Regions from separate parts of the Homo sapiens genome. Here region 1 is linked to region 2. The links come from fine-mapping of genetic effects on gene expression. Tissue or cell type: sun-exposed skin. Region 2 holds a variant in brackets; the other region holds the start of a gene. All regions are shown on one strand. Distances are from middle to middle.

Region 1 (5,041 bases), 97 kb after region 2:
CTGCTGCGGCTCATGCCTGTAATCCCAGCACATTGGAAAGCCAAAGTGGGTGGATCACTTGAGGTCAGGAGTTGAAGACCAGCCTGGCCAACATGGTGAAACCCCGTCTCTACTAAAAATACAAAAATTAGCCTGGCATGATGACACATGCATGTAATCCCAGCTACTCGGGAGGCTGAGGCATGAAAATCGTTTGAACTCAGGAGGCAGAGGTTGCAGGGAGCAAGATCGTGTCGCTGCACTCTGGCAGGGCAGTAGAGTGAGACTCCGTCTCAAAAAACAAAAACAAAAACAAACAAACAACAACAACAACAAAAACTATTATGAAGAGCCTGGGTAACATAGTGAGATGCTGTATGAACAACAACAACAAAAAAAATTGTTTAAGTTAGCTGGGCATAGTGGCTTTCACCTGCAGTCCCAGCTACTAGGGAGGCTGAGGCAGGAGGCTTGCTTGAGCTCAGGAGTTCTAGGCTGCAGTGATCCATGATCGCGCCACTGCAGTCCAGCCTGGGTGACAGAGTGAAACCCTGTCTCTTAAAAAAAAAAAAAAGAGAATTTCCTTCAATTTTCAAAACTGGTCCCTAAGCTTTCCTGGAAGTTGCTATTGTGAGAAGGTGCTAACAGTCATGGCTCCATCCCTTTAGGGTTCATAATTATTTTCTTTACCTGATTCTGGAATGGATCAAGTTTTGTGCCAACATCTCCTTAGTTGGTGTGGGGAGAGGAGGGTGAAGGATACATTAATTGAAATTTATGATATGCAAGGCATTTATATTATTTTGATGTATTTAAAGACATACATTATTATATTAAGATGTAAGTGGCTCACACCTGTAATTCCCAGCACTTTAGGAGGCCGAGGCGGGCGAATCATGAGGTCAAGAGAGCGAGACCATCCTGGCCAACATGGTGAAACCCCGTCTCTACTAAAAATACAAAAATTGGCTGGGTGTGGTGGCGGGCGCCTGTAGTCCCAGCTACTTGGGAGGCTGAGGTAGGAGAATGGCTTGAACCTGGGAGGCGGAGGTTGCAGTGAGCCAGGATCACGCCACTGCACTCCAGCCCAGGTGACAGAGCAAGACTGCGTCTCAAAAAAAAAGATGTGGAAACACTCCTCCTTGTTTAAGTCATGGTAAAAATGAAGGTTCTCAAAAGGAACTTTTGCTAAGAAACTAGAAAACTAGAAGAAAATTCTCACCCTCTTTTTTGTTCCCCCCCACCCCAAAATAATCTTACAGGACATAGATCTTTGATCGTTACTAAAACTTGGCCATAACTTTGCTTGGTTGACAGAGCTTATGAGGCATCAGTTATTTTTTCCTCCAGTTAACCCCAAACCGCTTTCAGAACCTCAATATTTTGCCTTGTTACTTTTTCCTTTCCCCTTTCAACCTACCCACCTCCTCCTACTCTTTCAGGAAAACAAAACAAAACAAAACAAAACAAAAAAACACAATACTAACCTGGTAAGATAAAATAGGTCACACTTGTTTGAATCAGTGTCTCATCAATACATAAGCATTTTATTTTTAAAGCAACTCTCTGATCAGCTAATACCAACTGGTACCCTTTTCTCATGAAAGGTAGAGTCATTTTCCTACTGCGTCTCCTGGCCTAAGGATGCACTGTGTAGGACATACCACTGGAAATAAGGAAAAAATACCAAGAAGACACTCAGAAGATCAACAGACCCGACCCTTGGGAGAGGTCAAGGCGTATACAATGACCAACTCTTTTCTTCCCTTAGTTTAATCAGTAAAACAAGTGTAATTTATATTTACCGGATCTAGGAAGCACAAAGCACTACTGAATTAGTCTTTTGAAAGCATGGATATTGTTTGAAGACAGAACTAAAAACTGCAAGGAGGATTCTTTCAGAGGGAGGGAATCCTCTACGGAGTCTTGATTTTCTTTTCTAAATAAGGAGTGGGAATGAGGATGAAAGTGTAGATGAAATACAAAAGAAAACACTATCCATGAAAAACAGTATTCTAGGAAATAAAGGCACTGGCAGAGAAAATGGAAATAGAAGACACATCCCTATCTGGAGATAATCTAATAATACATGTACAAATGGACCTCAGTGATAACATATGTAAACCACAGATTATAACTTTACAGAAACATTGATATTAGAATTCCACCCCCCCCTTTTTTTTTTAACTAACAGGCACAAACTTTTCCTGGGTTAGCAAGTTCAACTCTAGTCTTTTTCCTGCTAAGTCAAGTAGAGTGGGACATCAATGAGAAGTTCATTTTAAACCTCTGAAAATCAAACGCCAAAGGCAAGGTTGAGTTCACACGGACTCTTAACTGACTCTAAACCGCAAGGACCTAGTCCTCTTTGTCAATTGCGACCTTGCAAAAAGCTCTCAGTCGTCTGTTGGGATGGTGGTGATGATGGTAAGTGCGATGCTGAGAAGCTTTGCATCTGAGACTCCTTCTTCTTCGGGAGGCTGTTTAAGGGAAGCTTCCCTTCATGGGAGGAGAAGAAAAAAAGAGACATTGCCCTTTGATGGAGAGGAAGGGAAGGAAGAAAAATCTTACTGTTTCTGCCAACATAGAGGAGTCACACAGACTTGGGTTGGACTCTGGACCCCACTTTCCTCATCTGGGGACTCAAGAAATATCTACCAGAGTTTGTCATGAAGGTGAAATCTCATGATGGCTAAAGAGTCTGTTCCTGGCACACAGGAGGCACTCAGAAAGTGTCTTTTCTCCCCAAACAGCGTGGGAGGAAAGAATAGTAAGCGTTTATAGGGGTACAACTCCGACCTCCCAAATCTGACTCCGCAAGACCACCAATTTACCTCCCGGGAGGGTGACTCTGCCCAGCCCCGCGCCTGCCAAGCGCCGCCAAAGCCTCGACGGCGGTCCCCGGTGCCCGCGGGAAGGGCCGCCTCACTCACCTCGGGCGCCAGTAGGTGCAGGCTGGGTCGGCCGGCGGCCCCGCGCTGCCTGTCTCTTATAGAAGCGGGCGTCGGAGCAGCTGGGCAGCGGCCAATGAGAAGGGAGGGCCGGCGGGTGTGGGGCGTGGGCAGTCGCGTCCGCCTGCTCCCAGAGACTTGCACGCCTCAATCTCTGCGTGTATCTGACTGGTGTTTTAATTAAGTGAATGTTAGGCCGTCCTTAACCACACAAGTCTGACTAACACTGAACAATCCAGAGTTGGACATTCTCTCCAAACCAAGATAACGCCTATTATCGACACAATGACCTGCTATAGGACTGCAGTGCTTCTCGCCTGTTGGAGACCAAAGCAAGAATCCCCCCACCTCCCACACCTCTCTGTGCTTCTGGGCTATTTAATAGCCCAGTCCTGACTTATTATTCTCTTGGTGCTTTCCCCCATTCCTTGAGGCAGAGCAACAGTTAGTTGAACTTTTTAGAAGAGAAGTGTTCAGTGCCCTTCTAATTAAAAAAAAATTTTAAGCTGCAAGCAGAGAAGCATTCTATATTAGCAAAAAATCATATTACGTGCTATTGTGAACAACAGGACATAGAGGCAAAAAATTTGGAATAGGTATTTACTGGTTGAGTAGTCAGTCGATTAGCTCCTTATCCCAAAGGACTGTACACATAACGAAGTATATTATAGGACATTCTTTCCTCCAATGTTTGAAAAGTAAGATTTATTGATGTATAATTAACATACAGTAATATTCACCCTGTGAGGTGTACAATTCTGAGTTTTGACAAACATGTATAGTTGTGTAACCACCAAACGATCAAAATATAGAACATTTCTATCACTGCGAGAAATTTCCCTTGTCTAAAGTCTCTCACCTCACACCCAGCCCCTGGCAGCCACTGATCTGATTTCTGTCTCCACAGTTTTGCCTTCTCTGGAATGTCACAGAAATGAAATCATGAAATATGTACAGATTTTTGGCTCCTGGCACTTAACATAATGCTTTTGAGTTTCATGCAGGTATTAGTGATTTGTTCCTTTTCTTTCCTGTTTTCTTTTTTGCTGAGTATGGATGTACTTTAAAGCTCAGGATCTTTACAGCTTTTCTATGCATTTTTCTTTTATCTGTATAATGCTTCTATGAGGTACATATTATTTGTATTTTACAGATACGGAAATTGAAGCACAGGGGTGGCTCTAAGACGTTATTCTGGCACAGGCTAGTAAGTACCATCAATAATCAAGCAAAAGTGTCTGAGTTTAAATCCAGTGCTCTTACTTCAATGCCATAAAAAATACTGGTCAGGGAGAGACCTTTCAGAACCAAGCTGAGGTCAAAGATGTCTTTCCTAAACTGAAAGCCTTTCCTTGTAGATCTGGAACACGATAAGGATGCCCAATTTCACCACTATTATTCAACATAGTACTGGAAGTTCTAGCTAGAGCAATCAGACAAGAGAAGAAATAAAGGGCATCCAAACTGGAAAGGAAGAAGTCAAATTATCCTTGTTTGCAGATGATATGATCCTATATTTGGAAAAACCTAAAGACTCCACCAAAAAACTATTTGAACTGATTAAATAATTCACTAATGTTGCAGGATACAAAATCAACATACAAAAATCAATAGCGTTTCTGTATGCCAATGGTGAACAGTATGAAAAAGAAATTAATCCCATTTACAATAGCCACAAATAAAATAAGTACCTAGGAATTAACCAAAGGAGTGAAAGATCTCTACAATGAAAACTATAAAATACTCATGAAAGAAATTAAAGAGGACACCAAAAGAACAGAAGGCTATTCCAAGTTCATGGATCGGAAGAATCCTTATTGTTCAAATGTCCATGCTACCCAAAGCAATCTACAGATTCAAGGCAATCCCTATCAAAATACCAAAGACTTTCCTTACAGAAATAGAAAAAACAACCCTAAAATTTATATGGAATCACAAAAGACCCAGAACAGCCAAAGCTATCCTGAGCAAAAAGCACAAAACTGGAGGAATCACATTACCTGACTTCAAATTATACTGCAGAGCTACAGTAACCAAAACAGCATGGTTCTGGCATAAAAACAGACACATAGACCAATGGAACAAAATAGAGAACCCAGAAACGGATCCAC
Region 2 (5,041 bases):
CCAAAAGTCCCCATGCAACAGCAGAAATTTCACCTTGAGGGGTGCAAAGGGAAATGCACCATTTGCACGCCTCTGTGTTCTCACCCTAAAATAGGTGTCTGAGGAATGGAGCAATGCAGATTGAAAAAGATGCCTATATTTCTATGCCCCTCATGCTGAGACTACTGGAGGAGTCAGCATTCTGTTTTTGTTTCTCTCCCTCCAGAACTAATACATTATAACTCTGTTAGCAACCAATACAGCTATCTCATGACAGATCTCTCCAAGCCTGCTTCAGAGTAGATGGAGATGGAGCCCCCAAGGCTTCTCCAAGTGCCTGCTATGTGACTTAGCCCCTCATTCCCTGCCTAACAGGGTAAGACACACAAAAAATCTTAAGATACAGTGCCCACTCAGTAGCAACATATACTTTCCTCTGGAAGACCACCACACATGGGATAATCAGATGTTACAATACAATCAAATACTAATAGGTGATTCAAACTCTGAGTTAAGATTTCCGTTCAATTCAATAACAAATCCCAACCATTTGCTTTCTGATAGGCACTGTGTCATGCACTAAAGTTACAGCCACAATCAAGATATGGTGCCTATCCTCAAGTAGCTCATACTTGAAATGGCAACTGAAGTTGTCCAGAAAAGATTCCACTGGGCAAGCTCTAATCTGAGCCTTGTAAAGTGGTACATTTTGGATGTGCAGGTAAGGGGGCTAGGAATGAGATACTCCAAAACTCATACTTCCCGCCACTGTAAACAGAAACAGAACACAAACCCAAGAAAGAATCATGAGGAATTAAAACATCTTTTCTCAAGTCTTCAAAGGCATGCTTTACTGTACCAGCTTTAAAGTGGTGGTTTCTAGGGAAGGAAAGCCTCTTGGGTGGCTCTGTTTACCTCCACTAGTTTGTGCCCAGACACCAAGGGAGGGAAGAATGAGCTGTTACAGGCTCTGCCAGAAGACTGGCACATCTGGACTTCTAGGAGTTGGGGTGAGCACCAAGCCACAGTCACCTCTTTGCCCTTCAACCTGGAAAACCACCATCCAGTCACCTGTATGTCCTCTAGTCCACACTGCTGCCACTATGTTAGCTCTGGTATTTCCCAGCTTTGTCCTTAAATAAGTTACCTCCCCAGGTTTTGGTTCCCTCATCTACAAAATAAGGATAAATTATTATACTGCTTCATGGGAATGTGTTAAGAATTAAAAGTGATGCTTATAAAGTGCTTAGCATAATACATGGCATGTAGTCAATGTTCGACAAACAGGAACTAACATTATTATTACCTCTTTTAAAAAATCCAATTGTTCCTAATCCATTCTTTTTTTTTTTTTTTTTTCTGAGACGGAGTCTTGTTCTATCACCCAGGCTGGAGTACAGTAGCACAATCTCAGCTAACTGCAACCTCCATTTCCCAGCTCAGCCTCCCAAGAGGCTAGGACTACAGGTACACATCGCCATGCCTAATGTTTGTGTTTTTTGTAGAGACAGGGTTTTGCCATGTTGCCCAGGCTGGTTTCATGTGATCCACCTGCCTCAGCCTCCCAAAGTGCTACAAGAAATTCGTTTCCGAAAAACCAATGTAAGAAATCTATAAACAAAACGTACATTTGTTTATTGCTTCATAGTTGATAAAATGCTTTCACATCCCTGACATCATTCTGACAACTTACAAAGCTAAATCCAATAAGAATTATTATATCTATTTGACAGATGCAAAATCTGAGACTCAGAGAAGTAAAAGCAGCTGTCCAAAGATCAAGCCGCAGTGTAGTCTCTTGATTCTTCCAAGTCCTTCCCCTATTTGTTGCTCCCTCGTGCAGACCCGATCGTCAAATGATATGCATGCTCCCCACGTAATTAATAAGAAATCTTATCAGTGGGGACCACAGTGAAATAAAACCACAGAGAAGAAACTAAAAAATTACTGAATCACCTTTTTGAAGCGAGGGACTTTCCTCAGCCAGTCTTGGGAGTGCTGCTTACAGTGACATAAACATTTTGTTCAGCAGCCATGAGCAACCTTCCCTAGCCAGCTGGGTCTCCTGAAGTGGCACATGGGGAGGCCCCTGTGGGAGCCACAGTAGCCTCCCAGCACCTGTGAGTGGGACCCCACTCTACCTCCTACTTTGCTTTCCACTTATACTTCTGGTTCCTCTGAAAAGCCAGAGGCCTCACAATTAATTATTGTAGCAGTTGCTCCTTTTGCAAAGATATCTCTGATTCCTTCCATTTCTGCTACCCATAGCCAGTCTCCCTGAGTCTTGGATGACACCAGACATCCAGTAAAAAGAGCTCTCTTCCAAACAGTAATCTTCAGATGCAGGAGGTGGTGGCCACCACTGGCAGTGTCCCCACAGACAGAACCACTATATCACAAAGGGAATTATGTAACCATACAAAGATTAACCTCCCCCTTCTAGTCACAATTCACCAGTCCCTCTAACAACTGGCTGGGGATCTTGGGGGTCTAAAGGCTGCATCCCAAGGGAATGGTGTGGTTTTGCTTCCCTGAAAGTGACAAGAGGAATGTTTTCTCTTTATCTACCTCAAGAGGTGCCTACCAGGCAAGGCCTCAGTGGTTCAGGACATTTCAGGCAAAGAAGAGGCTGGAGCCAGA[C/T]GGCAGTCATCTTTGGGGAAGATGGGGAACTACAGGGCTCGCTCCTAAGGCAGCTATCCAATATAAAGTACCCAATGGAGCCTGGCAAAGAGAGGCTTAATTCAGGTCAGTGTAAACAACAAGGAGGTCCCATTGGTCAGAAAGCTTCCAAGCAAGAAGCTCCAAGGAACAGCAACCCTTGGAATCAAGCAGATGGCCTTATATAGGGGAATGAGCCACTCAGAACAAAGTCCCAAACAGTGACTAAGGATCCAGGACACTGAGTCCAATCCCTGCGCAATGGGACTGGCAAAACCCATACCCTGCTCAGCATAGGGTTTTTGTGCAAGTAGAACTGGGAGAGAGATCTAGCTGTCTGGATGTGGCCAAAGCAGGAGGGAGAAAGTGTTTAGGAAAGGCAAAAGGGAGGTCAGGGCTCATCACATCCCAGAGCCAGGCCACCAACAGCCCAACAAATTCCAGGCCTAAACCCAAGGGCAGGGGAGGTAAAGGGAGGGTGGAAAAGTGCTTCAGGGACAGCTGCTCAACAGAGCCAAGGAAGGTGGATAATGACACTACGCAAAGAAAAACTCAACAGAGAAAGTAAGAAGAGGCATGTTTGTAAGACTAGGTGGCAGGAATACCAAGATGATTATAAGACATCATCCTTGTTAGCTACTGAGAAATAGGTAGTAGTTGTCCAAGGAGCCAAAGGCAAAGGGAAGCAGAACCAGCATGCAAAGACCCAGAAGTATCAAAAAACCTGATGCATTATTGGTTAGGCATAGATAAACTGCAGAATACAGGGAGAGACTGGTAGAAGGTGAGGCTGGGTATTTTGACAGAAGCTGGATCAAGAAGAGCTTCTTATGAAAATCCAGAGATTTTAGACTTCATTCAGGATAGGAAGCCGTCAGAAAGTAAGGGCACACATTCATCCCTATAACAATCATTTGCTCAGCACCTGCTGTGTGCTGGGTGCTATGCAAGGTGATGAGGAGACAGTGGTGAACAAGGCCAACAACAGTCCTGGAGCTTACACTCTAATGACTCCATTCTTTGCACACTGGCTGTGCAGTTTATGGGTTGTGTGTTTCTCCTACCCATTGAGAATAGAGGCTGGGTCTTAATCTCCACTATATCTTAAATGCTTGGCTAAGTTTCTTTCACATAGAAAGTCGCTATCTAATAAGTGTGTATTATGGGAATAAATGTTTTCTGTATTTTCTAAGAGTCTAAAGAAAAAGAGCATAGTGCAATCAGATTTCTATTTCAGTACATCACTTTGGCAACTGGTTGTGGGCAACTGGGGTGAAACCAAACTAGAGACAAGGGCTTACCAACTAAGAAGCTGTCACTGTATTAGGCACTAGATAATGAGGGTCCAAACTAGAAGAATAGTGGTAGAAATGGAGGTAGTTTTAGTCCCCTGACAAGCCAATTCATGTGCAGCTCATTCAGCCTTCACAGACCTAGAATTGCTCTCAGCAGACCACTGAAGCCTCCTTTAAATCCTCATTGCCTTCTGTTTTCACTCTAAACCTCTGCATGATTTACTTTCACCCTGGGACAGCCCAGTTTTCAAGGTCAAATGCAACAAAAGACAGCTGGTCAGCTCCAGGGTGACCCTGGGCAAAGCCTGGGGCGGTTGTACCTCTGCAGAGCATGGTAGTAACATATGAGGTCACTAGGACTTTAAATCAGTGCTGATGAATTTCCTCTGCTGCTGAAAAAAAAGCAAGCCAGAGATATCCTTGCTGTCAATGCTGATGGCTGCCTCAACAGGAATTCATACTCTGATGCTGCAGGGAGATTGGCTGGATTATCAAGCATCTAGGCTCCACTATCTTCACTGGTTCTAGTTCTAAGAAGTGTTTACAAGATCCATGGTGGTTCTAGGTAGCTCCTAAGATCTCAAGCGATTAAGACAAAACAGCAGCTCTGACCCATACTTTTAACAAAACCTGTACCCGAAGCAGCTCATATGTCATGAACCTAAAAAACAACTTTTTTTGTACATGTACAGCACATTACAGTCTACAAACGCCCTTATATATACTATCTGCATTTTTCTATAACTCTATGGGCAAGATAAAGCAGATATTATTATGTGCACTTTGTGAATGAGAAAGCTAAGGCTTGGAAAGGTTTTGAATGACCCAAAATCATACAGATTGTACAAACAGAACAGAAAGTCCAACCCAAGTCACGCTCTACGTTTAAGACTCTGTCCATCAGACCTCCAACTCCAGCCAGCACGAGTTTACTAGAAGCATGAATTAACTTACTGTCCCAATACTTACTGAGGCTATTCCTTTCCTTGTTGCTTTTCCTGATATGACACTGAGGCAGAGCCTGTAAAGGGCCACCAAGTCTCCATTAGACCTGACTACCATCCAGTGATACCCAAAGCCAGAGCCCAGGGTCACACCCTGATGAGAAC

The links. PIP is the estimated chance that this variant, and not a neighbour inherited with it, causes the effect.
Region 1: TPH1 starts here. The variant in region 2 is fine-mapped to the expression of TPH1 in sun-exposed skin (GTEx, PIP above 0.99). The same link has a PIP of 0.9 or more in cerebellum, lung, sigmoid colon, skeletal muscle, subcutaneous fat and tibial nerve.

The regions. Positions count from the first base shown.
Region 1 is chr11:18,043,329-18,048,369 of GRCh38, forward strand. It overlaps TPH1 (tryptophan hydroxylase 1), which reads right to left and starts at 2,941. Exons shown (of 11, transcript NM_004179.3): 1 at 2,913-2,941.
Region 2 is chr11:17,946,631-17,951,671 of GRCh38, forward strand. All of the region lies in intron 9 of SERGEF (secretion regulating guanine nucleotide exchange factor), which reads right to left. Among named protein-coding and RNA genes, the nearest start is that of SERGEF, 64 kb to the right of the region's middle. The variant C/T (reference allele first, on the strand shown) is at 2,620.